4 separate regions of the Homo sapiens genome follow, and all the other regions are linked to region 1. Evidence: fine-mapped expression QTL. A gene starts in region 1. Each other region holds a variant in brackets. All regions are shown on one strand. Distances are between the middles of the regions.

Region 1 (8,109 bases):
AAAAAAAAGCAAGCAATTGTCCTTAAACTTATGAAAAAGGCTGACCTTCCTCATAATAACATAAAGGCATACAGACATCCCTCAGAAACATTGCAGGAAATATTACACACAAATTTAAGGTTTCCAAGTGCATATAAAAGTTATGTTTACACTATACTGCAGTCTATTAAGTGTGTAATAACATTGCATCTAAAAAAGCAATGTACATACCTTAATTTTAAAATACTTTATTGCTAAAAATGCTAACAATCATCTGAGCCTTCAGTGAATTATAATATTTTTTGCTGATGGTCTTGCCTCTATGTTGATGGTGGCTGCTGAAGACTGGGGAGGCTGTGGCAATTTCGTAAAATAAGACAACGGAAGTTTGCCACCTCAATTGATTCTTCCTTTCACAAAAGATTTCTCTGTAGCATTCTATGCTTTTTGATAGCATTTTACTCATAGTGAAACTTCTTTCAAAATTAAAGATGGAAGAACGGTCAACTGGTGGAGTAGTCAGAATACACAAAACATTTATTAAGTTCGGCATGCCTCATGGTGTCCCAAAACAATTAAAATGGTAACATCAAACATCATTGGTCACAGATCACCATAATAGGAAACAAGTTTGAAATATCGTGAGCATATTTCGAGAAATACCGTCACATTACCAAAATGTGACACATAGACGTAGTGAGCAAATGCTGTTGGAAAAATGGCACCAATAGATTTGCTTGACACAGGATTACCACAAACCGTCAATCTGTAAAAAATGCAGTGCCTGCAAAGCACAATAAAGTGGAGCACAATAAAAACAGGTATGCCCATATTAAACTTACTGAGAGATACGATTTTTCATCTCTTTAGATTTTCAAAAATCCAACAACTTAAATACTAAGATCTCAAGCAATAAAGAAGCAAGCACCCTCACACATTGTTAGTGGCAGTGCAATATGGTACAACTCCTATGGAGAGGAATTTAGCAATATCTAACTAGGTTGCATTTGCATTTAACCTTTGACCTAGCTATTCTACTGAAGATAATCACTTTCCCAAATATGAAATACTTATGAATCATTACTTGCAGCAACAAAAGTTTAGAAATCACCTAAATATCTATTGGCAGATGACTGGCTGAATAAAATAACGGAGGATTATGCATTTAATTTTTAAAATTTAAGAAAATTTCTGTGAACTGACATGAAGCAAGTTCCAGTATATATTGTTAAGCAAAAATTTCAAGGTGCAGTATATATTGTTAAGCAAAAATTTCAAGAGTATAATACATGTGTTATCAGTTGAATTGTGTCCTCGAAAGAGATATGCTGAAGTCCTAATCCCTGGTACCTGTGAATGTGACCTGATTTGGAAATGGGGTCTTTCCAAATGTAATCAAGTTAAAATGGGGTCATACTGCATTAGAATGGGCCCTAAACCAGTGACTGGTATTCTTATAAGAGGAAAGTTTGGACACAGAGACACAGATATGTGTTGTGCAACGATGGAGGTAGAAATTGGAGTAATGCTTCTACAAGCCAAGGAGTCTCAAGATTGCTGGCAATCATCAGAAGCTGGGAGAGGGGCATGGAACAGATTTTCCCATTAAGCCCCCATGAAGAAACCAGACCTGCCCACACCTTGGTTTTGAACTTCTGGCCTACTACACTATGAGAGAATAAATTTCTGTTGTTACAAACTACCCAGTTTATGGCACTTTGTTATGCAGCCCTAGAACACTAATATAATATGCTAGATGTTTTTGTAAGAAAAAAAGAAAAATAAAAATGTATTTGTCTATTTACCTTTTTTTCTTTTGCAAATGAAACATAAAAGAACCAGAAATTAACACAATTATTTACCATAGAGGATTAGTTGAAAGGCCATGGAGAGGATATGTTGGGGAGTAAGCCTTCTTTAAACATACCTTGTCATAGAGTTTTGACTTTATACATGTTATACATAACTTACTTATTTTTTAAAAAAAGTAAATTGAAAGAAAACAAAACAAAAAAGGAAACATTGAAATTGAACACAAATGTAATCAAAAGAACTGAAATATATATCAAATTGATTCCATAGCACATAGAGAAAAGGGTGATTTCAGAAAACTTCTGAACACAGTACTCTAGATATCCAGTGCAGGATATACTCTAAAAACAATAGGAAGTGCAAAATGATCTTAGGCTTCTCTTTATTTTTAGTGGCAGTATTAAAATTGTAAAAGACCACTCAACTCAAATCGTTGGTTGACTTGCTTTTTTTCCGAGGCTGCAAGATAATTCTGGACTAATAATTACAGGAATTCAGACAGTGCTATAGTAACAGGGCTCATTTGGATAAAAGGTAATACAAAAATTAAAGAAGTTTTACCTTCTCAATACACCCAAGTGACTTACTTCCTCCTACTTCACACAGGGGTGGGGAGGTGGGGCCAACCATCTCCTCCCTCCAAATCTTCCAACTACCTTGTGCTGCAACCCATGTATGCAGGACTCTCTGGCCTCCCCATAGTCCCCACCCACTACCTCCCTGTGTCAGAAGAGTCTGTGCGTCTATCAAAGACCAAACCTCCCACTTATGCTCTGGACTCCATCAGCCTTACTTTCAAGAGGGTCTGACTGCCTCTGTCCTGCAGCATCAAACTTCTGTCTCCACTAAATAATTCCCAGCAGCATGAACTCCTTCTACTAGTCCCTACCTTGAAACACAACACAACAACAAAGACCCTCTTTGATCACACATCTTCCCCCAGCTACCACTTCATTTCTCTGATCACCTGCACCATAAAATCGATCAAAATCATAGCGAAAAACAGTTTCTACCTCGTCACCTCCATTATCTCCTCAATGCAGTCAGCCAGGCTTTGGTCTACCTACCCCATAAACCCACGGCCTCCCTGTTGCCAAATGCAACCATCATTTCTTTGTTACCCCTTCACTCAGCCTCTAGGCAGTGAACCACACAGCTGACCATTTTCTCCTCCTCCTCCTTCTTTCTTTTTCTTCTTATTTCTTCTCCTTCTTCTTCTCTTCCTCCTCCTCCTTCTCCTCCTCCTCCTTCTCCTCCTCCTCCTCCTTCTCCTCCTCCTCCTGCTCCTCCTTCTCCTCCTCCTCCTGCTCCTCCTTCTCCTCCTCCTTCTCCCTTCTCCCTTCTCCTTCTTCTCTCTTCTCCTTCTCCTTCTTCTTCTTTGCCTTCTTCTTCTCCTCCATTCTTCTTCCTTCTTCTTCTTCTCCCCTCTTCTTCTTCTCTTTTTTTTTTTTTTTTTTTTTTTTTTTTTTTTTTTTTTTTTTTTTTTGTTGAGACGAAGTCTCACTCTGTCACCAGGCTGGAGTGCAATGACACGATCTTGGCTCACTGCAACCTCCGACTCCCTGGTTCAAGCAATTCTCCTGCCTCAGCCTCCCGAGTAGCTGGGACTACAGACAGGCGCCACCACGCCCAGCTAATTTTTGTATTTTTAGTAGAGATGGGGTTTCACCATGTTGGCCAGGATGGTCTCCATCTCCTGACCTCGTGATCCGCCCACCTCGGCCTCCCAAAGTGCTGGGATTACAGGCGTAAGCCACCACGTCCGGCCTCTTCTGCAAAAACTTCCCTCCACAGACTTCCGGTTTTCCTCCCTTCTCACAGATCTCTCCATATTGGTCCCCTTCTCCTCTTGTCCGTGGTCACCTTCTCGGAGTGGCCTAGGCTTAGTTCTCAGACTTCAATTTATACTCACCCTGGGTGAGCTCATTCAGTCTTATTTCAAATATTTTCTATAGGAAGATCAAATTCGTATCTTTAGCTCTCTCTCTCCTGGGCTCCAGAGGCGTTTATCCCGCTGCCTGTTTAATACCTCTACCAGGATGGTCTCTGGAGTCAGGCTGTCTAGATAGGTATCCTACCCTCTACCTGTGTGGCCATGTGATCCTTAACTTTATCACTGAAATGGAGATGATAATAGTACCTACTTCATGAAGTTATTTGTGAAGATTAAATGCAAAAGTGCATATAAAGCACTTATAACAGCCCTGGCATAAAGGAATTGCTCAATAAATACCTATTTGTTTACTTGTTAAAGGTGAAGGAACCTTACCTATGTGTCTAATTCAACAATGAATTCCCAAGGCCTAGAACAGTGCCTGACATATGCTAGGAGCTCCATATTGACTGACTGAATGAATCGATTTCTATAAAGGGGGAAAAGGTAGTACCTACAGAAATCAGCTCAGTTGCCACAGGTTGTCTTGACTGGAAGCGTCATCTGTGGCTTTTTTCCAACTTCCCAGCACTGTATTTTTGGAATCTGTCTTCTCATTGACCAAGTCCTAGGAATGTAACTGTGGCATTCCTGCCTCTGATATCTGGTTCTGTGGAGCAAGCTGGGTTTTTTTCTTTAAAAATCTAAAATATGATTTATTGTTAGAATCCATTGATAATGTTTTTTCATTTAGACTCAGTCTCAGCAGCGCTAAGTAGAAACCTAGAAAGCGGATGTATATTAGGTAAAAATATGTATATATTGACTATAACACGAATAAAATTTAAGGACGATGTAAGACAATGAATTTTCTTGACAGGTATGGGACTGGGCTGGCACAGTCGGTTAAGTGCCCAAAGGGTATATAAACCCGCGACAGGGCAGAGCGCAGCCCCCGCCCCGCCCCGCCCCGCCCCCACACCCGCCCGCCCCAGAACCCCAGACCCGCCCCTCCCCTGCATCCCGGCTCCGCCCGGCACCTTGCCCCTCCCTCGCCCCGCCCCTCCCCGCCTGAATCCCGGCCCCCGCCTCGCATTTCGGCCCCGCCCTGCACCCCAGTCCCGCCCCTCCCGCACCCCCGCACCCCTGCACCCCCGCATCTCAGCCCCGCCCTGCATCCCGACCCCGCCCTACATCTCGGCCCCGCCCTGCATCCCGGCCAAGCCCGCAGCGCAGGGAGCTGTCTGCAGAGGCCAGGGTGCGCCTGCCACGAATCCCCAGGCACCGGTGGCCGCCGCGGCCCGAGTAGCTCGGCGGGTAAACATGGCCGCACTGACGACGGTTGTGGTAGCGGCTGCGGCCACCGCGGTAGCCGGGGCTGTGGCAGGGGCGGGCGCGGCCACCGGGACCGGCGTGGGAGCGACGCCAGCGCCTCAACAGGTAAATCCGGGAGAACCGAGAGCTGCTCTGGCGGCAGGCGAGGGGCTGCAGGCCCTGGCTGAACAGGTGCCCTCTGCAGCGCCGGCGGGAGGCGCGGCGTTCGCCTCCCCTGCTCGGGGCCTGGCACGCGCTGGGCGTTGCTCTTTGTTGGCTTGTGCGTTTAACAGCTTTTGCAGAGCCGCCTCCATGTGGTTTCGGAGTCGAGGAAGACCTGGGTGGGAACCCGGCTCTGCCGCTTCCTAGCCGCGTGATAAGAACATATGCTGTCGGCGACTCACTTTCTTCTCTAAAAATTGGGAATAGTAACATGCACCTCCCGAGCTTTGGACTAACGTTATGTCTGGGGAGCCCCTGGCACAGTGCTTGATTGGAGGGGGACTCTGTGCTCAGTAATTGGTGGCAGCTCTGTTACTGTACCGGCGCTGGGAACACAAGGAGAAAGACAATATGGGATGGTCGGAGGCAGAGGTGTTTCCAGTGATCGGCTTAGGACCGCTTTCTAGGTGGTGAGGACAAGGTATCTTTGTTCAGATGTTATCAGCTCAGCGAGACTTTCCATGATCTCCCTAAAATGAATCGCCTTACGCGGCACACCCAGTCCCTGTTTCTGGTTTTATTTTTCCCCATAGCACTTAGTACCATATATTATATTACATACTTTATTTCTATTGTTTATGTTTCTCCTCACACCCCTCACCCTCCCTCGCACCCCCATGAGAATGTAAGCTCCATGAGGGCAGAAAGTATTGGAAATTTTATTCTTTATTGTATTCCCAGCACCAAGAACTATGCCTGTTGTGTAGTGCCTGGAACGTAGTATGCACTTACTAAATAATTTGTGGATCAATATAAACCTGAAGGAAGGCTGTCATGAGCTGAGGAGAGGTTCCATCTTTTTCCTCCTTTAAGGAAATACAGTGTCTTTACTCGTAGACCTTCAGGAAATTCCACCTACGGCAAATTTTCTCACACATCCTCTATAATTCTCTTTATTATTCTAACTCTGTCCCAAGTATCTCAGGAAAAAATGTAAAATATATAAATATACATAATACGTAAAGTATTTTTAAGTACTATGCTCAAAAAAATGTGTGACACCATGTTGCTGGCTTTCTCCATCATTTCTCTAAATTCTTGTAGCAATGTTCTGTCTTCTGATCTGCATTTCTTGCGAGTTGCCTAATGTTGTTATTGATGCACACTTTTGTGATGTTTGCCTTCTCAGGGGTTGGATCAGATCACCTGTGGAGCTCTTTCAGATATTTTATCAATCCCCTAGAGGATATCTAGCAATGTTTGGAGACATTTTTGGCTGTCAGAGTGGGGAGCAGGGGGGTGTTGAGGGGCTGCTAGCATCTAATGGATACAGGCCAGAGAACAGCCACCCATAACAAAAATCATCTGGTCCAAAAGTTAGTAGTGCTGAGATTGAGAACCATGGTGTATACTGTCTTACCACTTTAGTAGGGAAAGCAGAGCCTCATTGTTGAGAATCTACCTCAGCATAGTTAGGTAGAATTCTTCACGTGTGTTTGGGCTTTTTTAAAAAAACAAAACAAAACAATGCAGCATTACTGCATGCTATATTGTGATAATGTTTAGGAGTTTACATGTTATCCATTTTTGTACTTCCCCCAGCATACCACACGCACATACCTATACACACAAATTCTACAGCCTAACACCGAACTTGAATATTTGTCATATGATTAAATGAACGAATATTCCTACTGACTTTAACACTGAAACCAACTAGTATTTTCTTGAGAAGAGAGAATTTTCCTGGTGGCAATCTCATGATACTAGAGATGTCTACCAAAATATCTAAAGTTCCTGTCAGCTAGGGCTTCTATAACAAAATGCTACAGACTTGGTGGCTAAAACAACAAAAGTTTATTTTCTCACAGTTCTAGAAGCTAGAAGTTCAAGATCAAGTTGCCCTTAGGGTTGGTTTCTGGTGAGGCCTCTTTTCCTGGCCTGTAGGCAGCCACCTTCTCACTGTGTCCTCACATAGTCTTTTCTCTGTTACAAGAGGAGAGAAAGAGATCTCTGGCATCTCTTCTTATAGGAACACTAGTTCTATCAAATTAGGTCCCCACCTTAATGACCTCATTTAACATAAAGACCCCATCTCCAGATAGAGTTATTTGGGGATCAGGCCTTCTACATAGGAATTTTGAGGGAACACAATTCAGTCCATCACAGTGTCTTTAAATTACTTTGGAGTAAATATCTCTGAAGTTTTAAAACTATTTTATATTGTATTTTATTTTACAATATCCTCAGGGCGTGGAATCTCATAAATTCCTCACTCATTATGAAAAGTTAACACATTTTCCATACTTTTTAATATTTGTATATTATTTGTTCATAACCCCTCTTAGCTATTGCCTTTCAAAACTGAAGACCGCAAATCTCTATCCTCCTCTCCAATGTCATTTCCTTCTTGTTACCATCTGTTCTCTTGATCATTGTAGTTGCTGAATTATGACTTTTTTGAAGTATCTTTAACAGTATCACATTAGTGTGATGCTGGTTTTGTACCAGCATAAGGCTCTGTCTTCTGTTTTGTTTCTAAGGACCTTCCCTCTGATGACCTGAATTTTATGTTCCTTGGCTGCCTGAAATAACCCTTCAATAATAACTATTTTCACCTGTGACTGTGTAATCTTGCATCGTAAAAGGGACTTTGCAGGTGTGATTAAGATAAATTAAATACCTTAATTATCTGAGTGGACCTGGTGTAATCACAAAGGTCCTTATAAGAGAGTCGCAGGAAGATCAGAGTCAGAAGTAGGAGATGTGATGATGGAAGGAAGAGGATGGAGTGATGTGAGGAAGGGGCCATTAGCCAAGGAATTAAGGTGGTTCTAGATGCTGGAAAAAAAGGTAAGGGGGTGGATTCTTCCCTGAAGCTTCCAGAATGAATGTAGCCCTACTAACACCTTTGTTTTAATTAACATTATTTTTAATTGACAAATCTTAATTATATACATTTATGGGGT
Region 2 (8,109 bases), 82 kb after region 1:
GGCACCCTTGTCAAAAGTCAGTTGACTATATATATGTGAGGTTTGTTTCTGGACGTCTTATTTTATTCTGTTGTTTTATATGGCTGCCCTTGTGCCAGTACTATACTGTTTTAATTACTGTAGCTTTGTAGTAAGTTTCAAAGTCAAGAAGTTTGAGACTTCCAACTTTTCTTTTTCAAGATTGTTTTGGCTATTTGGAGCCCCTTGCAATTTGATATGAATCTGGTAATTGACTTTCCCATTTCTGCAAAAAAGTCTTTTGAAATTTTGATGGGAATTGCATTGAATCTGTAGATCCCTTTGGGTAGTAGTGATATCTTGACACTGTTGAGTGTTCCTATCCATGAGCACAGGATGCTTTTCCATTTATATAGGTGGTCTTCAATTTCTTTCAGCAATGTTTTGTAGTTTTCAACATACAAATCTTTCACCTTTTTGTTAAGATTAAATTCTCAGTATTTAATCATTTCAGATGCTCTTGTAAATGAAATTGCTTTCTTAATTTCCTTTTGGATTGTTCATTGCTAGTCTATAGTAACTACCAACTTTTTATGGAATAGTTTTAACAGGCATTAAGGATCATTGCTTAAATCAATTATGGCATTAAGAGGTTACAAAACAGTGGTATTCTTTCATTCCTTCTCAATTTATTAACTAGCATTGTTTTTTAAAGAAGAATTTTACCTTACCCTGAGATATACTTTGTACAGAGAAGGACAGATAAATACTGAATTCTTTCCCTTAATAGTGTTCAACAAAATGAGTTGGTTCCCTACCATCCCCTCAGCCTTTCCAATAAAATATTAGATTTTAGAGTTTGGGTTTTTTTTTTTTTTTTTTGAGAATCATTGTGAACACATAGATTTTAACATTTTTTAGTCATATATTATATATAATATATATTAGTTATATATGACATATATATATATATATACACACACACATATAATGCTTAAATTGTCCTATCTTTAGTCTATAAGAACCCTTTCAAGTTGTCCCAAGTCTTTTTTATTTGACGTCAGTAGTCTTTGACAGCTTTCTGAAGGCAACCACTTTTAAACTTTTTAAAAATGTTTTAATTCTTGTGGACATTACCATAACTTTAAATCACAGACTGACTTCTTATCACCTTTAGACATTATTGATGATTCCCAACTATGAGAAATTAAGATTTAGCCTCTCACTTTTCCAACAAATTGTTACCCGTTATAGTTAGTTCTGAATATTTTCCTCATCTTCTACCTTCCAATGCTATATAAGGTTACCTTTATTTTTATAATGTTAAGTTAGGACACATTCATATATTTGTTCAATATTAATAATCACATCTTTCAGCCTTTGCCTATAGGTTGATTCTAAAATTTAAAAACCAGTAATCAACACTTATTATGGGATAGTGAAAATATTGTTTATTGCTAAGCCAAGTGCAGTGTTACTATTATAATTTTTTCATTTTTATGTAATGACCAGTGTGCCACTGATGGAAAATATTCCTAACATCAAGATTCAAAAAAGTCTTTTTCCTTATATTTTATTAATTAAATCAATGTAAATGAATAAATTTGTTTCCTGTTTGTACCATAACTTTCTTATGAGTTTAGCTTTTCTTTTTGAGAAATAATGCTTCTTCATTAGTCACTAAAAGCTGTGGCTCTCTCTGGTTCATTAACATATATTAAATTGCTTTGTATCATCAGAAATGTCTTGAACCCTCTTACCTACTGTGCACCTCATCTTGAACTTCACAGTATTATTTATTTATTTGTATTTTACTTTTATGGGGTCTTGAGAGAAAAGCCAAGTACATGTCCTAAATCATTAAAAACTATATAGTTTTTTATGTTGCAATCATTTTTGTCTTACCTTTTTCTTTCCTAATTAAAGAGCTATACTTTTTTACTATTTTCAAAACTGTCTGTAGCATCTGGTTAGTAATTTTTGTTTGCTCTTTTTTTAAAAAATATTTTTAATTCCAGTTACTACTAGTTTATAACTAATAGCTCAAGAGCTTATCATAAGAGTTAAAATATGGGTAGATAAAATTGTACTTTTTAAAATGACTGATTATGTTGAGTGGATTCGAGTTGTCTTTTGAATTTAGCTTAATGTGATTTAAAGGGTTCAGTTGGCCTGGTTCAGAAGAAGGAAATAGAGAGTCGAGAAAAGGAGAGTAGATTTGATAAGAAAATTAAAAAGTTAATGTGATTTACTCATTTCAAAAGTGCTCAAGGCCCCAGAGACTTGGTCTGAGCACCTTAGCTAAAGAAAAGCATATCTAAATGACACGTATCTGAAATTTGAGCCAAAGGTTGATATGAGTTTTATGTCAGTAAATTTTTATTTGTCATGTCATTTCAGCTTCTAAAAATTTTCCAATACACTAACTTTGAGAAAAATAGAAATTACATCTTATCAACTCAAGATCGCCTTGTAGGGGGATTTGCCAAGTGGCCAGACAGTCATCCAGGTAATTATTTTCTTTGTGAATCAGAACAACCTTTATTTCCTGAATAGATCTTCAAGCATCTTTATCAGAAAAGGCATATGATAGAAAATATATCCAGTTGCAAAGTTACATTAAATAATATTTTTTAAAAGGTATATTGTGTAAGCTTAGGATAAATTTAGGGTATTAGAGAGTATAAATGAAAGAGTTTATTATCAAGATGCATGGGAATAGTGTGCATTTTTTCCCAAATATTTTACTTAGTAATGTTTTATTTCATTTGCAGCAATAATGTAGATGGTCTGAATGGGTCCTTTCCAAAGAAGAGAATTATTTAGGCCATCCAAAGCCGTTAGGATTATTAGTCATGACTTGAACTAAGTATAATAAATTACTCCCAATCCTGAAGGGAATCAGTTCTTACTCTTTTCAGAAGTCATTAAATAGGCCGGGCACAGTGGCTCATGCCTGTAACCCCAACACTTTGGGAGGTCAAGGCAGGTGGATCACTTGAGGTCAGGAGTTCAAGACCAGCCTGGCCAACGTGTTGAAACCCCGACTCTACTAAAAATACAAAAATCAGCCAGGTGTGGTGATGCGTGCCTGTAGTCCCAGCTATGCGGGAGTCTGAGGCAGGAGAGTCACTTAAACCCAGGAAGCAGAGGTTCCAGTGAGCCGAGATTGCACCACTGCCCTCCAGCCTGTGTGACAGAGCGAGACTCTTTGTCTCAAAAAAAAAAGTCATTAAATAAAATATTTCAAATCCTGAATATATGTGTTTCTCACTTCCCATACTCTTGTTCTCCAAATTTCAACAGATTCAGACAATATAAATGGCATGGCACTCAAGGCCCTTCCAAAATTTGGCTCCTCTCCCACCTCTAGCATCATTCTGCAGCCTACACCTCACCCGACATATGTTTTCACCTCCAGCAAAATGAGTCTATATACAGCTTCCCTATAAAAATCCATTTAAGTGTGTTTTGAAATAATTTCAAACACTGACACTTTTGATAAGCAAGTAGTTAAAGAATTAGTTACAAATATGAAACTAGACACAAGGAATGATTGTTTTTGCCAGTATTGCAATAGAGTCGTGGTTTTTATTATCAGCCTGGAAAGTGCCTCATCAACTCATCTTCCATCACAGAACTGCTGTGGTTGGAATGTGTGATTGAATCAGAATATAAATAAGGAGCTCATGAAATCAATTTTTGTATTTGAAATGAGCAGGAATATTTCCTTACACCCCTACTTGCCTATATTTTCATATAAAACATGCTTCCTAGGCCAGGAGTTTTGGCTCACGCCTGTAATCCCAACAGTTTGGGAGGCTGAGGTGGGCGGATCACTTGAGGCAAGGAGTTTGAGACTAGCCTGGCCACATGGTGAAACATTGCCTCTACTAAAAATACAATAATTAGCCAGGCGTGGTGGTGGGTGCCTGTAATCCCAACTACTTGGGAGGCTGGGGCAGAAGAATTGCCTGAACCTGGGAGGCAGAGGTTGCAGTGAGCCAAGGTCACACCACTGCACTCCAGCCTGGGCAACAGAGCAAGAGTACATCTCAAAAAATAAAATAAAATAAATGGCCGGGTGCAGTGGCTCACGCCTGTAATCCCAGCTTTGGGAGGCTGATGCTGGTGAATCACTTGAAGTCAGGAGTTGAAGACCAGCCTGGTCAATATGGCGAGACCCCGTCTCTACCAAAAATACAAAAATAGCCAGGCATGGTGGTGCACACCTGTAGTCCCAGCTACTCAGGAGGCTGAGGCAGGAGAATTGCTTGAACCCAGGAGGTGGAGGTTGCAGTGAGCCAAGATCTCACCATTGCACTCCAGCCTGGGCGACAGAGCGAGACTCTGTCTCAATCAATCAATCAGTAGTAAAACATGTCTTCTTAGAGAAAGTGTACATTGCTTTCAAAGTCGTAAGCCAAAGTGTGTCTTCAGAAGTTAATTTCTCAAGCAAAATAATATCTTGAAATTTTTGATATCTCTAGTGCCTCAAAACTGAGAATTATTTTGGTCTTCATTCCATTTTTTAAACCAGTGCAGGGTACTGTTTTAACAAATAATGGGAGTAGGGAAATGACAGTCTCTTAGGAAACATTTCTTGTATAAACATACTTGAAATACATTCAGTGTTTCCAATAGCTTTTTTAAAAGAAAGTTCTTGAGGCTTTTTCCGGAGAGTTCAGTTGCTAACTTTAACATTTGTGTAAATATTTGGATGTACTACTTACTTTTTACAGATACATTACAATGTTTTCAGAGTATGCAATAGAAAGCATAGAAGGGCTTTGCTAAATTGAATTTATGTGTAAAGATCTGGTCCCAGAATCTTTAATCATTTTAACAAGATTCTTTAAAATTAAGCTTATTCTTCATTCTAGTGAATTTAGTGGCAAATTTGATACAAAG[G/A]GATTTTATATACATTTATGAAAGAAACTTCAAAAGAATAACCTTTTATTGTGGAGTAAATATATATTTCAACATCTAAAGTGCTTTATTATGGAGTAAACATATAGTTCCACATCTAAAGTGCTTGTACGTTGCCACTTACAGATAAGGAGTTTTTTTAAAAACACAATTTGAGGCTTCAAACAATTGAGTTCTGATCTCATTGGCTGTTACAAAAATCTTTTTGAGAAACAAATAAGTTTTATTTGTTACTTTACCCAGAGAGATTTTAGTTTTACACAGTTCTATTTTATGTTATTATAGATATATATTTTCTGTTGTACTTTTTCCTAGAAAAGTTTCCTAGTTTCTAGAAAACAAAGCTTAATGTTGCTTTGTACCCTTTGTAGTTTTAGAATAACTATATGGATGTAATATGACAGGTGAAATCAAGTTTATTTTTTATAGTCTGAAAGTCAAAGGAAAGTGAGCCAGAAGAAACCTAAGTATTTTCTGAAAAGGCCTAAAAGGTGATCAACATGGGCCTCCATTAGTTAAATAACATTTTCACAATGGCATTGAGTAAGCACAGCTATTTGTCATTTCTGTTTTGAAAAATAAGTGATACTGTTGTAAGTAAAGCTTTTTCTTTAACTCTTTTGACAAAGTTTGATGTGGTAAGATGTGTTGAACTTTTTGTTGTTGTTGTTTTGAGACAGGGTTTCATTATTTTGCCCAGGCTAGAGTGCAGTGATATAATCATGCCTCACTGCAGCCTCAACCTCCCTAGGCTCAGGTGAGCCTCCCACCTCAGCCTCCCGAGTAGCCGGAACTACAGGCGCACGCCACCATACCTGGTAATTTTTGTATTTTTTGTAGAGATGGAGCTTCACCGTATTGCCCAGGCTGGTATCGAACTCCTGTGGCTCAAGGAATATGCCCTTCTCGGCCTCCCAAAGTGCTGGGATTACAGGTGTGAGCCACCACACCCAGCCTGTTTTGAACTTTAATAGCTCTTAAGGCCATAAATGTCGGCCAATTCAAAAATAGAAAAAAATTTTGACTGGTACAAAACTGTCTTTTTAATGTTCCTATAACTGCAAAGCTCTGAGCTCTTCAGAAGTCTACATAAGACTCCTAGGCAGGAATGGCCATGTGATTTCATTGGCCACTTTAATAGAAGAGGATCGCTGCCCCCTGAAAGATGGGAAACTAGTGAGCCAGTGCAGAATTGTCATGGTATGAGCACTCATATTATTTCAACCAAATAGAATGTGAGTTTGTTTTTATTGTCAGATCAGATATTTTTACAATGACTGACATTACCCTAAATAGGAGGATTAAATATGGCACAGCATTCCAGAATGGATTATTTTTGCATAAGCTCCTTTTATTTAACACAATGTTAGGATAGTACTGCATATGGTTTAGGAACTTTCAGAGGTAAAACGTGGAGCGAGGGATATTGCAACTTAGATTCAGAGTTTTGTTTTCGTTTTAAAGAAAAAAAAACTTAATGATATAGCATTGAAGCTACTCGTTTTCATGTTCTCTAGTAAGCAAGAGGGGAAACTCCCCAAAGTGAGAAGTCTTACATATGACTGCTGCTACTCCTGTCTTTTAATCACAGAGGTTATGGACAGTATCAGCTCTTCAGCTGGAAACTGTTTTCCTTTGTTAATGATATTTTCATGAATAAAATATTTTATTTTGATCATCTGAGTTTTTTTTTTAATTGGTGTTTGAGGCTTTGAGAAAGCAAATATTTTTAAAACTATATTAGCATTTCTCTAAACTTACTTTTAATGGAGTGATGGGCTGGTAAATATGTGGCTAAAATATTCTGTAGAATGTACAAGTAAGAATGCCTATTATGATGTTTTAAATGCCTTCTTTTCAGATGCTTTGCATGCATACTTTGGGATCTGTGGCCTGTCACTAATGGAGGAAAGTGGAATTTGTAAAGTTCATCCTGCTCTGAATGTAAGCACACGGACTTCTGAACGCCTTCTAGATCTCCATCAAAGCTGGAAAACCAAGGACTCTAAACAATGCTCAGAGAATGTACATATCTCCACATGACTGATTTTAGATTGGGAGGGTGGGGGGATTTGTAGCATAACTGTAGCTCAAGTTTAAAAGCCATGTATAACCAAGTGTGCTCTTTTTTTAAAAGGTAGAGTCTTACAATCAAATCTCCTGCTGATTTCACTTTGGGATATGGTCTTGAGCCAGTAATCTTTATACTGGGTTTCAAGAAAATCTTTGTTGAAGTTTGAACCACAACTTTGTCGTGGTTCTTAAATGTTTATACTGTATTTCTAAGAAGTTGTTTGAGGCAAATTAACTGTATGTGTGTAGGTTATCTTTTTAAAAACTCTTCAGTGCAAATTGTATCTTATTATAAAATGGACACAAATTTTCAAGTTTACACTTCATATAGCATTGATAATCTTCAGGTGAACACTTAGTGATCATTTAAAAAGCTCACTGCTGATCGTAGAAAATTTGCTTTAATTAATTAAGTATCTGGGATTATTCTTTGAAAACAGATGACCATAATTTTTTTTAAAGAAGAGTGACTTATTTTGTCTTATTCTTAAGTAAAGTGTGCCAATTAAACCTGTGTGGCCTATATAAATGAAGTTAATAACTTCATAGTAAGAATAAATAGGTTTAACTAATGTGATAGTTTTCTAAAAGGAGATTGTTTGAAGACAACTATTATGTAACTGAGGGAAAAGCAACTTAACTGTATGTGATTGTGAATGAGAAAGTTTTGTGCTATGTGGGTCATTTATCTAGACATTGCTGTGGTGAATACCAGTTATGTTTGATTTTATTCTCAAATCATTAGTTGCCTTTTTTTTTTTTTTTTTTTTTTTGCTTTCTAGGAAGAAAACAATCTTTTTTATCTAGAAGGAAAGATACTTTGTGTTTTCATTTTTAGCCATTTGAAGTTTTTAATTTATTGCCCCCAGTGTGTTAGCTGCTCTAATTTCAAACTAATACTTTTCTAATTTTTTTCAAATTAAATAAGTAAAAAATACAAAAACAGAACCATTCAAACAGATTCAGTGGTGTAACTCAATACATGGTCATTTTTATTCTCATATTTTCAGGTAAGTGAAAGGGAAATGCGACCATTTAGAGGGTAAGAAATAGGGTTTTGTTTTTGTTCATTGTTTTGTTTTAAGTCTATGAACTAGCTAATTATAAAGGAGGTAGTATAAAAACTCTTCATTAGTAATTAATTTATCA
Region 3 (8,109 bases), 35 kb after region 1:
ACAAAAATTAGCCTGGTGTGGTAGTTCACGCCTGTACTCCCAGCTACTTGGGAGGCTGAGGCAGGAGAATCGCTTGAACCCGGGAGGCGGAGGTTGCAGTGAGCTGAGATTGTGCCACTGTACTCCAGCCTGGGCAACAGAGTGAGACTCCATCTCAAAAAATAAATACATAAATAAAACACAGAGCAAGATGAGGAAATTAAAAGCAGAACTGAGAAGCTACAAGATACAGAAAATGTTTCTTACATATTGCTTTTTTACGTGTTGCTTTTTGTTGCACCGAAATGCAGCTTTCAAATTCCTGTATCCAAGGTAAGCATTCTGGATGATGTGATTCTTATGGCTTTGTTTTTTTATTTTTTTTTTAAATAAAGAAAAGTATGGAAGTTCCTCTGAAGAAATCAGTTTTTCTAGCTGAATCTGAAATAAATGATGAATTTATTATATAGATCCTTTATATAAAAGATGTAAGATAAACAAATATCTTCAGTTACAGACTTCATAGAAGTTACAGGTTCATAAACAAGATGTCAAATAAATATTTCTTATACTGGTTTAAAAAGTACATTAGCTTTTTCTCTGAGAAAACACCAAATCGCGGATGATGCCGGTGCAGCGGGGGACCTGGGAGGCCCGGAGGCCCGGGGGGCTCTGGGATGGGGAACTGGGGTCTCAGCCGGCCCTGGGATGGGGAACTCGTGTCGCGGCCATGGACGGGGCCGGGGCCAGCTGCAGAGCTCGTGGAGGCAAGACCAAGGACAAGGAGTAGATGGTTGTCACCAAGCTGGGCTGCCTGGTCAAGGACATGAAGATTAAGTCCCTGGAGTAGATCTATCTCTTCTCTCTGCCCATCAAGGAGTCTGTGATCATTGACTTTTTCCTGGGGCCTCTCTCAAGAAGGAGGTTTTGAAGACGTGCCAGTGCAGAAGCAGACCTGCACCGGCCAGAACACCAGGTTCAAGGCGTTTGTTGCCATCAGGGACAGTGGCCACACTGATCTGGGTGTTAAGTGCTCCAAGGAGGTGGCCACTGCCATCTGCGGGGCCATCATCCTGGCCAAGCTCTCCGTTGTGCCCATGCGCAGAGGCTACTGGGGGAACAAGATCGGCAAGCCCCACACCATCCCTTGCAAGGTGACAGGCTGCCACGGCTCTGTGCTGGCGCGGGTCATCCCTGCGCCCAGGAGCACTGGCATCGTCTCGGCCCCCATGGCCAAGAAGCTGCTGCTGATGGCAGCTATCAATGACTGCTACACCTCAGCCAGGGGCTGCACTGCCATCCTGGGCAACTTCGTCATGGTCATTTTTTATGCCATCTCTAAGGTCTACAGCAGGCTGAACCCTGACCTCTGGAAGGAGACTGTATTCACCAAGTCTCCCTATCAGGAATTCACTGACCACCTCCTCAAGACCCACACCAGAGTCTCCGTGCAGAGGACCCAGGCTCCAGCGGTGGCTACAACATCGGGTTGTACAAGAAAAATAAAATGAAGTAAGCCTGGAAACAAAAAAACTACATTAATAAGAAACATAGAAAAAACACTAAAGAAGAAATGTTATAAAGTACCCATAATTCCAGGGTAACTTTTTCAAAAAACATACCTACATATTTTTAAATTGTTACAGTCATACAGTACATATTAATTACTATGCTATAATTGCATTACACATTTTCGTACATTTCTACCTAATTCAAACATTATCATGTAATGGCTAAATAACACTCAATTATATAGATGTTCTATCATTCCCATTCTGTTATGCACATGCCAAAAATCTTGTAGGGATAAAATCACTCATGGAAAGCCTTTTACCGACCTAGGAGGCATTCTGTATTATCTCTGAATGAGTCCCACATTGCAAATTTTTCCTCTAGATTTGGATCAGATTGCTAGTCCTTGAGCTGAGAATCAGATGAAACATTTGGCTTCCCTAACTTAAGGGCCATGTTTATTAGAATTAATTTTCTGAGAATGTATAGAGTGTCCATAGCTGATTCCAGTAAGTTAAATGTGTATAAGACTCCACTTTAAAAATCTTCAGGCATTTGGGGGTATGTGTGCTAAGTGAGAGATCTTAATTTTAATAACAGTGGAAACTCCAGACTGGGCACACCTGAAGGGCAAGGACTGTGAGCTCCGTATTTGTAGGGAAGTACCGAGGACAGCCTAGAATCCGTCTGTGGCTGTTAAATGCGGCATTTTGTAAAGACATGCAGGAATACCTGTGAATAAGTAGTTAATAGTACCAAAAATTATTCAGAGCACTTTGGATTGTTGAATAAGTGTAAGATTACCCCAGCCCATAGAGTATAAGAATTACATTTTCTAAGAAAGCTAACAAAATTAAACCCAAAATTTTATTAGCTAAGTTGATCACAGGGAACCTAGTTTAGTTATATTATTGGGTGGATCCCCCCACCCGCTACTCAGGAATGCCTCATGAAAGTTTAAAGGGCATAGTATACCGGCTAAACAACTTAAATCCCTATTTTTGGAAAAAAGAACTAGAAGCATGTTTAAATTTTTTAGAATGCAGGTAATTGGAGAAGATATTGAGCTTATTTTGCTGTTGCAGATTGATGCACCATTGATTCTTGATAACACGTCGACTCAAGCAAAGTAAAATCTGTAAGATTTGTAAAAGAATGACGCAAGCAGTCATATATAGGTATGAATATGCATGTTGTATATGTTTGGGGGCATTATACACAGATTTTTAAGTGATTCCTGGTATCCAGAAAGGATTAAGATTAGGAAAGTCTCTGAGCTTTTGTAGTGTCAATAAACATTTATCTCCACTGGTTTGTTTTTCTGTTTCCCTAACCGTTCGGCTTAAAACTGGCCCTCCAAAAATGAATCTGTTAGCAAGTTTATACTGATCCATCCTCGTTTTCAGATATACCATCCTCAGGTTCTACAGAGCCAGAATTGTCTCAAAGCGTACTTGATGCTTTTGACCTTGCGCTTCCCAAGATAAAAATTCTGACGGAGGGATTTGTGGACTTGATTTTCACAAGGCCTGCGAGGTGTTTACAAGCCTCGAGGGCTTTGAGTAGAAAAGGTAGGGTCATGCGCTAGCTAGGGAGATATCGGAGAGAGGAAGTGCTGCACAGGACCCAGATGATAGCGGTTTCAAATACTGGCTTAGTCTGCGGCGGGCGCAGGTCCCCTCACCCGGCACCCTGTGGTTCAGCACAGGAGGGTTCTTTCTCTCCGCGGGCACTGATTCCGGGTCGCGGCGGACGTCGCTTCCGGAGCAGCATGGCGGCCACTGAGGATGAGAGGCTAGCAGGGAGCGGTGAGGGAGAGCGGCTGGATTTCTTACGGGATCGGCACGTGCGATTTTTCCAGCGCTGCCTCCAGGTTTTGCCGGAGCGCTATTCTTCACTCGAGACAAGCAGGTAACTCGTGGCACAGTCAGCCAGGCTGGCACAAGGCCCGGGCTCCAGCGGAAAGGCGCGGCGGAGTCGGACCGCAAACTGGGCGCCGGAAGGGGGCTGCGCGGCCGCCCAGTTGGCACTGACTGGTTTCAAGTGGGCTTGAGGTTACCCCCACTCTCCCGCCGTACGGTGGGAAGGTCTGGAAGGCTGTAGGTCGAGGGCTGT[G/A]GCATCTCCAGTTTCCGGCTTTTTCACTTCCCTTTTCTTCTGGCAACTCTGAGCTGCTTTTTTACCCGCTCCCATAGCCTGTCACTTTGCCTCATTACTTCCGAGTGTAAAAGGAAAAGGACAAAGTTTGTCGTCGTATTTTTAGATGAATACTTCTGTGCATCCTTGTCCTCTCTAAAGTCATTAACTCTTAATAGAGTGTCTGTATGGTGTTTTATGTGTAGGAGCGGCAGAGAACCTCTAAGGTCTTAGAAACTTTGTGGGAACTATAAATCTAATGGTAGGCGAAAGAGGTGTGGTGTTGCGTGAAGCAGCCTGTTAAAAGTATCGCAATAGCTGAAGAGTGTGGTGCGGCAGAGACTAAGCGACTTCATTTACAGTAAAAGCTGGGGATGAGAAGAAAGAAAGGAGAAGGCAATCTTTGCTCCGCATTGCTGTGTTTTGAAGTGAAGCTCAAAAGCTGCTTGAGACTGGATGGGAGGAAAGAGCGGCTTGTTTTTGCTGTGTTCTTTCCCCACGTTTTCCAAATTCTGAGTTGCTGGTGTATTTTGAACACTGCATGACCGGATCAGTTTGGGGAGCTTTGCAGATTACTTCTGCACACTTGGTCAAGAACCACATTATGGTAGGTGCCAGAGTACAGCTGAACAAGACAAGCATTTGTATAGAGTTCTGTGCTATATGTTAGTGTAGTGTTCATAGGAGTATATAGACAGGCATGTACATAATCCAGATATCTTTAGAGAGGCCTTCCTTAAACACCCTTCCTAAAGGGACCACTTCCAATGACCACCTCACATTACGTATGTATTGGTTTATTTGTTTAATGTCTTTCTATTACACTGGATTATAAACTTCACAAAGGTAACATTTTCGTCTATCTTGTTTACCTCTATACTTAGGACTGGGCTGCCCTGTCCAATCTGGTAGCCACTAGCCACATTTGGCTATTTTGATTTGAATTAATTAAATCAAATTAAAAATTAAGTGATTCTTTTGGTAGTAGCCACCACATTTCAAGTACCCAGTTGCCATATTGGCCAGTGGCAATTGTTTCTATTTCAACATTTGCAACAGCTTAGTCCTTTTGGTCAACATTGCACTAGGACCTTAAATAGTACCTGGTATCTGAGAAGCACTAAGAAATATTTGTTGAATAATGTGAGCTGAGCCCTGAAGGATGAACAGATTCTCACAAAAGAAAGAGTGAAACGTTTATATTCCTTCCTCCTCTCATAGGTGTTGATCGATTAGCAGAGCCTATACCTTCACTGAAAGATTCAGATTTCCAAACCGAAAGGTTATGATTGTAGTGATATGAGATGTTTTAAAATGTTGATAAATTGTTTATATCTTAATAGGGATTAATTTTATGTGAATTCAAAGCTTTTAGATAAAAAGTCTTCCATCCTGTTTTTGTTATTGATACATAATGTGCATATTTATCGTATACATACACTGCTTAGATAGATGCAGTGTATAAGTCCTGTGAGCTGATTAAATTGTGATTGTTAAACAGTTGAACTTTGCTTGCAGCTATCACTATAAGTCTGTGATTTAATTTTCAAAATGCCAATGTGTTTGGCCTGTTTTATAAAATTCCAGCTTGGACAAATCCATATAGAATAATGCACATTGGCATTAAACTGTGTAATTCTGTTCACAGCATAAGTAAAACAGCACAAATTTTCTGACTTATTTAACTTTAGTATGAGCATAGGATCGACACCAGGTGTTATATAACACCTTGGTGCATTGGTTAAGCAATATTGTATCCTTTTTTGTCTAATGTTTGTCATATGAATAGAATTTTTACATCATTTTGGTTTTCTTATAGCCTAGTTAACCGCATTTAAGATAACTGCATATGTCAGTTTCTGTAGTGATTTTAAGTTTTTCTCTTTCCTAACTCACAGACTTTATTTTCTTTAGCACTAAGTTCTTTTGTGGTGCATGTGATTCATAACTGACTTTAAAATGCTTGTGAAGAAACTCCAACCTTTTCAGCAAAGGTGACCGGTCACAAAGTTTCTGCTGATCTTTAAGACAAAACAGTACATTGGGCAAGCCACAACTCTTACCTGGTATTGCAGTTAAATTCCACAGTCATTCATAGAGTGCCTCCCCATGTGTCTAGGTACAGGTATACAGTGTTAAACTAATGATTCAGGTGTTCCTCTGTTCGTTTCTTTTTACCAATAGGTATGAAAAAGCTTTGAGAAGGCTAATATTAGACTGGATATTTAGACACTTATTTTCAGATTCACCATTTTGGCAAAATTACTCTTATTTTCTTGTTTCTTTTAGCCTGACCAATAGGAATAATTTTTACTTTTCTAGTGACAATGACTTTATGAAAATAAAGAGTGTATTGTCTGCGGTTTCATCAGAGATTTTTCTTTTATATTGACTTCTTAAAATGATAGTTACTAGTTTATAATCCAAGTGAATATTAAATCTTGGGTTGGGAGCTTTATCAATTACCAGGTTTCTTTTATAAGTAGTTTAGGGAGTTTAGTGTGGTTATGAGTTATTCTTGCCATTTGTATTTGGGTAATAGGAATTAGAGTAGTCCTTTTTATTAAGGAACAAAGTAGTGACAATTTTCTGTTATTTTTACAGTCACCTCTTCTAGAAGAAGGGTTTAGGCAGTTAGCTTTTATTTCACAAAGCATTTACAATCTAGCTAGTCTTTGTATTCTCATGTCCCTCTATTTTCCCCTGTGTATCCTGTGTTGTAACCTCTCTCCTGCCTCCCATTCTGCAACTACTTTGTTCTTTCGTTTCCTCCCTTATCTTTTTTTTTTTTTTTTTTTTTTTTTGAGACAGTCTCACTCTGTCACCAGGCTGGAGTGCGGTGGCACCATCTCTCCTCACTGCAGCCTCCGCCTCCTGGGTTCAAGCGATTCTCCTGCCTCAGCCTCTCAAGTAGCTGGGACTACAGGTGTGTGCCACCACGCTCAGCTAATTTTTTGTATTTTTAGTAGAGATGCGGTTTCACCATGTTGGCCAGGATGGTCTTGGTCTCTTGGCCTTGTGATCCGCCCGCCTCGGCCTCCCAAAGTGCTGGGATTACAGGCGTGAGCCACCGTGCCCGGCCCCCTTATCTTAAATATATCACAGTCTAGCAGTACATCTTTCAAAGTGTAGTGGTGGGAGACTCTAAGTAATGGCTTGTATGTGCTTTCAAAAATGCACATACCTGGGCCCCTTCCCAGACCTTCATTGGATTCTGTGTGGGCCTTGGGAGTCTGCATTATAACACGCATCTCAGGTGGTTCTAAAGCAGGCTAAAGTTAGAGACTGTTTGCCTTATAGGAGAAACAAATATGCAGTTATTACAGCAGTGATTCCCAACTCTAATGTGTATGTGAATCACTTGGGGATCTTGTTAAAATGCAGATTCTGATTGCATAAGCCTGGGTCATTGTATTTTTAGATGAATACTCCTGTGCATCCCAGTCCTCTGTAAAGTTATTAACTCTTAATAGAGTGTCTGTATGGTGTTTTACGTGTAGGAGCAGCAGAGAACGTCTAAGGTCTTAGAAATTTACTTTATGGGAACTGTAAATCTAATGGTAGGCGAAAGAGCTGCGGTGTTGCATGAAGCAGCCTGTTAAAGTATATTGCAATAGCTGAGGAGTGTGATGCTGAGTGTGAGCCGGAGATGCTGCATTTCTGACAAGTGCCCAGATGATTTTGTTATGGCTAATCCCCTGACTAGACAAAATGATTGTGATATTCTGAGGGCATTCTGGAAGTACCTAAGTAGCTCAGCCTGAAGAGAGACAGGGACTAGAGAAGGCTTCTTGGAAGAAGTAATCCCAAAGCTAAATCTTAAAGAATGTGTTCCAGTGTTTTGTTGTTGTTGTTGTTGCAAATGGACAATAAGAAGAATAAAGCTGGAGAAGTGAGTGTTGAGCAGAAAACTTCAATTAGTTCTCTAGTAGTGGTTCAAAATGTAAAGGGATATGGTAGGAATGTAATCTGAAGAGGTAGGCATGCATCAGATCATGGAAAGCTTTGTGTGCTTGTCTAGAAACATGAGTTGGATATCATGTAAGTGACAGGAATAGTCATATATATAGTCATATATCACATGGTACAGGACCAGAACCAGGGAGACCAATGAGGACACTCATGTGGTAGTCCAGGAGAGAGATGCTGAGGCAGTGAAGTAGGGCTAGAAAAGAGGGGATGAAGAAAAAGAAGGAGTCCCAGGATTCTTGAATTGGAACTGCTATCTGGTCTGGATAATAAAAGGCAAAAGGAGCCAGTTGAGAAAGGAAGAAGATGATTCATGTAATAGCACTTAACATGTAACCTCCTTAAGGTTAGGAAGCTTTATTCATTTTTGTGGTGACATCTAGTCTGTAGTAGGTGTTCAGTAGATGTTTCTTATTGAAAAAGTATGATAGTAGAAAAACTATTTTACAAGTTAAATAATTCCACAGATATGTGACTGTACTTAAAAGTATTTACCAGTTGAATCAGCCATTGAAA
Region 4 (8,109 bases), 55 kb after region 1:
GATGCAAGAGGCATCTCTGTTTTTTCAAAATAGGCAATTGATTCTGATGGGCAGCCAGACCACACAAAGAATTTTCAGTTTGTTTTGCAACTGTTAAATAGGAACACTAGATGGTGCTGTTTGATAACCTGGAAAGAAATTTATACTGTACCCAGAGTATGCATTCAGCGATAAATTTACAATGAATTGTGTGTGTATACTTTCTTAATTATCATGAAAAGGTATGCTTACTAGAATTCCAAAGGAAAGCACACAAGAGCAGACAAATATTGACAGAAACCGCAAAAGAGTACCTAATAAATATTTTTAAGTGGTGAATTTTTTTTTTTTTTTTGAAATGGAGTATCATTCTGTCACCCAGGATGGAGTGCAGTGGCGCAATCTTGGCTCACTGCAACCTCCACCTCCCGGGTTCAAGCAATTCTTCTGCCTCAGCCTCCCAAGTAGCTGGGACTAAAGGTGTGCTCCACCACACCCGGCTAATTTTAGTACTTTTAGTAGAGATGGGGTAGAATTCTCCATGTTGGTCAGGCTGGTCTCGAACTCCTGACCTCAGGTGATCCACCCACCTCGGCCTCCCAAAGTGCTAGGATGACAGGCTTGAGCCACCGCGCCCGGCCTAAGTGGTGAAAAATTAAGTGGTGAAAATGTTACCTCCTAATGAGCATCATTTTTTAAAACATTAGGATTTAAGTGTGTGACTGATAACTCAATTTAGTAAATGAGTAATTTTCTTGATTTCTTAGTTACTTCATCATAGCTTTTCATAAGAAACAGGAGAATTCTCTTACTGTAGAATAAAGTATAAACTTTAGAATAAACTTCTTTATCCAGTTTCATAGTCCACAGGTGATTAAGAAGAAGGCAAAAAATACTACATTGTCTTTTCCCTATACTGTGACCGTGGTGCTTAAGATCCAAACACTTTTTTCATGACAGTATACAGTCTTTCTGGAAAAAAAAAGAAAAACATTTTTACTTTAAAAAAGCTTTCCTTGATAAATTGCAACAAAAGCTATTCATTTCTTCCTGTTTCACTTTTGATAAAATACAATTAACTGATTTTGAATGGTTACTGTTTATTAAGCCTTGTTTCACTTTGCTAAGTACAATCTAAACATGTCCTTTAACCTTTACAAGAAGCCTGAAGTATATTACTTGCAATATGTTATTGTTACTAGTTCAAAAATGGAAGAAACTGGCTCAGAGAGGTTGTTACTTGCCTATAGAACTCATTGATAGGAAGAATAGGATCCTGAGTTTGATTCCAAGTGTCCATGCCATAATCTCCTAACCTTATATGGTACTTTTAAGTATTGATATTTCTGCTGCTTTTCAGAAAAGTTATTTATTTAATCAGGCTAAAAACAGAAGTGAACAAACAGAAATGTCATTTACTGATTCACCTCTAAGAAGATGAATAAATTCATTTATTTCACTCAGAAGCAGATATTTTATTGAGCCACTACTATATGTCTGCCTCTATGTAAAACACCTGACAGAATTGTTTAAGTTGGTGGGGTACTCAACAAAGGTGTCCAGTTGCAAGTATAAATGCAGAACTGACAGATGGTATCAGAGCTGTCTTCCATCAAAAGTAGAAATGGGATCACATTTTTATGGAGGACTGTTAGCAGATTAGTAACTTGAAAGGATACCCTTTAAAAAAGACAATCCCAAGAACAAAAAGAGAAAAAAAAAGATTTAAAAATGTTTTAATCATATAGGAAAATACGCCTTTTGATACTGCCCCTCATCCAACTAGAGAAGGATTAAAAGAAGTGATGATAAAAGGATAGGCTGGGTGCGGTGGGCTCCTGCCTGTAATCCCAGTACTTTGGGAGGCCAAGACAGGCAGATCACTTGAGGTCAGGAATTCGAGACCAGCCTGGCCAACACGATGAAACCCCGTCTCTACTAAAAATACAAAAATTAGCTGGGCGTGGTAGCTCATGCCTGTAGTCCTAGCTATTTGGGAGGCTGAGGCAGGAGAATTGCTTGTGCCTGCGAGGCAAGGTTGCAGTGAGCCGAGATCATGCCCCTGCAGTCCAGCCTGGGCAACAGAGCAAGACTCTGTCTCAAAAATAAAAAGGATAAATGAATTCATAACTTGGTAAGAGAAAGATAACTTTTTATTTTTTTTTTAAGTATAGCATTATGTACAATTTGGAATATGGGGGGTGTGTTAGGTAGAATCCTTTTTTTTTTTTTTTTTTTTTTTTTGTGAGACAGAGTCTCGCTCTGTTGCCCAGGCTGGAGTGCAGTGGCCCGATCTTAGCTCACTGCAAGCTCCGCCTCCCGGGTTCATGCCATTTTCCTGCCTCAGCCTCCCGAGTAGCTGGGACTACAGGCGCCCGCCACCGCGCCCAGCTAATTTTTTGTATTTTTAGTAGAGACGGGGTTTCACTGTGTTAGCCAGGATGGTCTTGATCTCCTGACCTCGTGATCCGCCCGTCTCGGCCTCCCAAAGTGCTGGGATTACAGGCATGAGCCACCGCGCCCAACCTGTGTTAGGTAGAATTCTAAAGATGTTGCCCCAGGATTTCTGTTCCCTGTTAATTCAGTCAAATACTAATCTGGGTACTGCTGTGAAGGGACTGTGTAGATGGGAGTTAAAGTTATACTAATCAACTGACCTTAAAATGTGGAGCTTATCCATAGGTGACATGTGTACAGGTGGGCTCAGTATAATCACATGAACAGCAGACGAACACAGAAACGTTCGTCATGGAATTGCAGAGAAAGGGAGCAGAAGAGAGAAGAGAAGGTAGAGAGGGTCTAATGGAAAAGATTTGAGTGCCGTTGCCACTCTGAGATATGGGGCCCATATATGAGAAATGGCAAGAGAGGATCTAGGAGCAAAAAGGGATACCTACCAGCAAAGAAATGGAGAACTCAGTCACACAACTGCAAGGAAGTTGATTCTGCCAGCATCCTGAATGAGCTTGGAGGCAGATTGTTCCCCCAAAGCCTCCAAGTAAGGAAGGTAGCCCTGCCTACACCTTAACTTTAGCCTGATGATGCCTGTGTTAGACTTCTGACCTTACAAACAGTAAGGCAGTAGGTGTTTTAAGTTGCCAAGTTTGTGGTAATATGTTATGGCAACAGTGACTAATACAGAGAACAAATTTCAGCCTTATTCATATCATCTCACACCATTCATATTATTTTGTTTATTCCCTTCCAGTCTTTGTTGATATGTGCCATTTGCTTAATTATAAACATAAAAATGCACATTTATTTTTGGATCCTACTTTTTTGCTTAACTTGATCAAATACATTTCTCTGTGTTGCTACATAGTTCTACTGATTATTATTTTTAATAGGAATATAGCGTTTCTTTCAGTACATGAGGCATGATATGCTTAACCTGCTGGACTTTTATGGTGCTTCTAGATTTTCACTATTATTAAACTGCAGTGTGCATTTCTTCTCATACTTGAAATTATTGGAATTGATTCTCAGATATATCATGACTAGGTCAAAAGGTTATGAGTGTTTTTATAACTTCTGTTATATATTGGCAAGTTTTAAGTAGCTTACCAATTTAAAAGTCCTTAGGATAAGAGAACCATAATTTGACTGGGTCAAAAGGATATGAGTGTTTTTATAACTTCTGTTATATATTGGCAAGTTTTAAGTAGCTTACCAATTTAAAAGTCCTTAGGATAAGAGAACCATAATCACTGAAATCATAATCACCATTAGTATCTTTTTTTTTTTTCAAGACAGTTTGACTCTGTCGCCCAGGCTGGAGTGCAGTGGCACGATTTTGGCTCATTGCAACCTCCACCTCCCGGGTTCAAGCAATTCTCTTGCCTCAGCTTCCCCAGTAGCTGGGATTACAGGCAGGTGCCACTACACCCATCTAAGTTTTGTATTATTAGTATAGATGTGGTTTTACCATGTTGACCAGGCTGGTCTGGAACTCCTGACCTCAGGTGATCCGCCCTCCTCTGCCTCCTCCCCAAGTGCTGGGATTATAGGCGTGAGCTACCACACCTGGCTGCTAGTATCTTTTTAAAATACATTTTTCGCCAGTAGGGAGATGATAATTGGTGGAGAGTTTAAATTTAGTGGTTCCTAATTTGTTCAAAGAATTAATGTATAAGCTACTATTTTAAGTTTTTTGGGGGGATAAGAAGCTGAAAAAATATAGTACCTAATGCAGAAGTAGGAGAGTGAAAACAGTTAATAATGAAGTTAGTCATACACTAGTCATAATCTCTTATGAAGGTAGTTCTTCATATCAGAGACTATTTTTAGACCAACTCGATTTTTTTTTATCA[G/A]CGGTGCATTTACAGTCTGCTGATACTGCATTGTTATTTTCTGCATCTATCATACTGATTTTCTAATAGCTATTAAAACCATAATTGTTGTATAGTTGATTGTTCTTTCAAGTTCCCAACTTATATTCCATTGATATCTTGAGAAATGAAAATTTTTAGATAGAAAAAAAGTATGGATAAACATATTTTGATTGAGTAGAGAGAGACTAAGTGCTAACTTACAGTGTTCTACATACTTCAAAGCCAAGTGGATTACTGGACTCAGAACGAAGGTCTAGCTAATGTGGAAATACAAAGTACATATTTTCTCTTCAGCTTTAAACCTTTAGTTTGCTCCCATGTAAAGAAGCAATGAGTTAAAGTAAAAACACACTAAATGAGTTAAAGTAAAAAGACAGTAGACCCTATTGTGTTATTAACCGTTACCTTGAACAATCACTTAACCTCTGGGCTTCTGTTTTCTGTTCTGTAGAAAGGGGGATTGAACATGTTGATCACATAAAAATTGATCTGACAGGAGAAGTATGAAAGGACTGTATAGGCAGTGAGGTGGGCTATTAAAAAAAGGTACATGATAGAAATAATTATGTTTTTTGTGACTCATATGGAAATTAAATGAGGAAATTCCCATAAGCACCTAGAATGGACCTGGCACATGGTAAGCATTCAGCATTAGCCAGTATGAAAATGGAGACTAAAATAGTCTGTTTCTGAAAGATTGTGTAATTAAACTGCTTTAGAATCTGTGCAAAAATAAAGTGTACTTTAAATAAGCACATGCTTTTATTTTCTAGGATCAAATCTAAATCGCTGTGGTTTCCGAGGCTCTTCATACCTGGGTATTCCGTTCAATCCATCAAAGGTTGGTTCTATTTGGTTCAGAAGGAAGTAGAAGGGATGTAGGGATATTTTAATAAAAGAGAAAACTAAGAAGTTACACAGAAAAAAACAGGCTTCCAGATTTCAATGTGGCTAAATGTTGTCTAATAATATATATATATTATAAACTGAAATCCTTTAAAGGAAACCTATACCTACTTTACTTCCTCAAAGAAGTGCACTTTCTTCCGGGAAGAATACATGCAGTACATAAACACACACAAATTTCTATTAATTGTTACAAAAAATTGTCTCAGTATCATACATCTGTGTGTAAAAGTTATTGGTGATTTCCTGAGTAAAGGAAAACAGAGCACTGAAGTGTTTTGATACCTGCTGTGTAAGAAGCCAGTAAACTTTGTTGTGTTTATAGAAAGACTCTACATTTAGCTCACATTTCTTAGGAATAAAAGAAAAAGCCCTTCTAAAGGCAGTGATTGAAGACCTAGGTAGTGATTATTTTAATGACTTTTATTAGAATATGCAGAACTTCTTCATGGTTATATCCAAAGGCCTTGATACCAGCACATGCCAATATAAAAACAGTGAGTCCTAACAGAGGGAGGAGCTTTATTTCTTCTTCAAAGGAGCAGACCCAGAAGAAACTTTGTAGGTGTTCCATATGTACACAAAATACAAGTATTTTTCTACAGTAGAAAGTGGAGAAAAGCATCATTTTTTCTAAAGCGGCCTCACACCATAGAAACTTTTTCCCTGATGGGGCCAGCCTGCTTATGTAATGGTTATAAGCCAGTATCTTGTTGGGCTGAGTATCCACTTGCAAGGTAAGTGGAGAGCTACCAGTTTTTCCGTAATCAGCTTCAAATTTTTGGAATAAATAGCAGTAATGTTGAAGAAGATGACATACTTTGATAGAGGTACTACTTCAGCTTTCTTCCTCTGCCTTAAGCTGTAAACCAGCTTGCCTGTGTCAAGGTCATATGAATTTACCAGCAGGACTCCAATTATGGGTGCCCACTGCATTTAGCAGGGAATGAGAAAACAAAGGATTCAGAAAATTTGTCCCTTTTCATGCCTATCATATTTTCCACCTTAAGCTAATCCAGAATACAGGTAATGTCTTCATTTAGTCATAATGAACAGAATATCGTGCCACTAGTTATGATGACCGTTATATAGTACTATACTATATATAGATGTCTACCTATATTTGTTACAGTGCTTTAATAACATTACTTTTAAAATATGATCCTTCCCCCAACCAACGCCTGCACCAAAACATTTTCAAAATAACAGGAGTAAAATTGAAGAAAAAACCATTATTGCCCTTGGTTCACAGAGTCTCCTGAAACTCCTTTTTGGACCTTCATTCACCTGCACCCTGATATCTTCTGGGCAAGCTAGGTCTCACTTCATGCTGTATTACCTTCATCTGAATTCTGGGTGGTAAAAGGAACTAGATATTCCAAGTGGTATCACATAGAACCGTCACTGAGAGTGGTGACTGAGCGTCTAGGAGACAGATTAGGCCAAGAGAATGTGAGGAGGCACATTAGATTGTCCAGTACAGTATATGAATAAAATATTGTCACTGAGTTTTCTTCTGAAGCCACCAAACTACCTATGGACCATTCACTGACTTACCTGATAAATGCTTGGGACCTTCAATGGCTGTAGAGCACTTTTTGAGAAACACTGATGGATCCTCCCACTATTGTCACAATTTCCTTTCACAAATCCCATGCTCTCTAGCAAATTTTGTGTTGTCCTTAATGTGCACCCCAGAATTATCCTTCTCTAATTTGCGTTTACTTTTTCTTCTACCTGTAATACCTCCTCTTCATCTATACCTGCCCAGGCTCCTCTTCTGCAGAAAAGAATTCCTATTTAAACCCATGTTATTATTATCCCTCCCTTATGACTACTCATTACATTCTATTGTAATTATTTGAGTAGACTTATCTTCTGCTCTTAAGGTTAAGGACCACATTTAATTTATGTTTGGCTTCCATGCAGTTGTTTTAACATAGCAGGTATTTACTTTAAGTATCAAAAAGTTAAATATGCAATAGGAATTCTAAGAAGTCAGTTGTAAATGTGGAATAGGATAGCCAGGAGAACTAGAGCTTGAGTTCTAAGGAGGAACTTAGAATGAAAGACATAAAGATGGAAATTTGCTTGGTACATTTGTGAGACCATATAAAGAACTGCATATCTGGCCAGGCACAGTGGCTCACACCTGCAATCCCAGCACTTTGGGAGGATGAGGAGGATGGATCACTTGATCTCAGGAGTTTGAGACCAGCCTGGGCAACATGGGAAAAACCTGTTCTGTACATAAAATACAAAAATTAGCTGGATGTGGTGGCAGGTGCCTGTAGTCTCGGCTACCTGGGAGGCTGAGGCAGGGCAGGAGGATTGCTTGAGCCTTGGAGGCGGAGGTTGCAGTGAGCGAGATTGTGCCACTGCACTCCAGCCTGGGTGACGGAGCAAAGCCTATCTCAAAAAAAAAAATGTGTATCTAAAGGTGGGTAGGTGGGGTGGGTTCAGATTATTATAAAAAGGGTAGTGAACACCATTCAAATTCATTCTGTGAGGAACCATAGAAGGTAAGTATGCAAGAAAATCTTACGATTCATGGGTGGTTTCAAGACCCTTGGATCTTGACTCCAAAGAACTAGTGGTCCGTCTGATATTTGCCTTGCACTTAGTCACCATTAAGATAAGTAACAGCTTTTTAGACAGTAACTTACTTAATCGTCACAATAACCTTGTGATGTACTAATATCTTCATTTTCTAGGATTAGGAACATTAAGCAAGCCAGTGAGAAATAGAACCAGGATTTTATGCATTTCAATGATTGTAAAAGTTTACATTTATTATAGAAGGCAGAAGAGTTTATTTTAATTGTATCGTTTTTTAGTTTCTTATATGGTGATCACTACTGTGGTATTTCATTTAGATTTGTGCTATATAAAA

What was found.
Region 2: its variant is fine-mapped to the expression of CCDC112 in whole blood (INTERVAL, PIP above 0.99). The same link has a PIP of 0.9 or more in skeletal muscle.
Region 3: its variant is fine-mapped to the expression of CCDC112 in whole blood (TOPMed, PIP above 0.99).
Region 4: its variant is fine-mapped to the expression of CCDC112 in whole blood (INTERVAL, PIP 0.92).

Annotation. Positions count from the first base shown.
Region 1 is chr5:115,293,422-115,301,530 of GRCh38, reverse strand. It overlaps CCDC112 (coiled-coil domain containing 112), which reads left to right and starts at 4,877. Exons shown (of 10, transcript NM_001040440.3): 1 at 4,877-5,104. The coding sequence starts at 4,988. LOC105379129 (a long non-coding RNA gene) reads right to left here and starts at 4,603. Exons shown (of 5, transcript XR_948684.3): 1 at 4,183-4,603. RefSeq lists a silencer at 4,779-5,228.
Region 2 is chr5:115,211,223-115,219,331 of GRCh38, reverse strand. It overlaps PGGT1B (protein geranylgeranyltransferase type I subunit beta), which reads left to right. Exons shown (of 9, transcript NM_005023.4): 8 at 2,359-2,467; 9 at 6,749-8,109. The coding sequence ends at 6,930. Among named protein-coding and RNA genes, the nearest start is that of TRIM36, 45 kb to the right of the region's middle. The variant G/A (reference allele first, on the strand shown) is at 4,870.
Region 3 is chr5:115,258,005-115,266,113 of GRCh38, reverse strand. It overlaps PGGT1B (protein geranylgeranyltransferase type I subunit beta), which reads left to right and starts at 3,237. Exons shown (of 9, transcript NM_005023.4): 1 at 3,237-3,402. The coding sequence starts at 3,263. It also overlaps the pseudogene RPS2P26. RefSeq lists enhancers at 3,119-3,168, 3,199-3,378. The variant G/A (reference allele first, on the strand shown) is at 3,607.
Region 4 is chr5:115,238,581-115,246,689 of GRCh38, reverse strand. PGGT1B (protein geranylgeranyltransferase type I subunit beta) reads left to right here. Exons shown (of 9, transcript NM_005023.4): 3 at 5,084-5,151. Among named protein-coding and RNA genes, the nearest start is that of PGGT1B, 20 kb to the left of the region's middle. The variant G/A (reference allele first, on the strand shown) is at 4,290.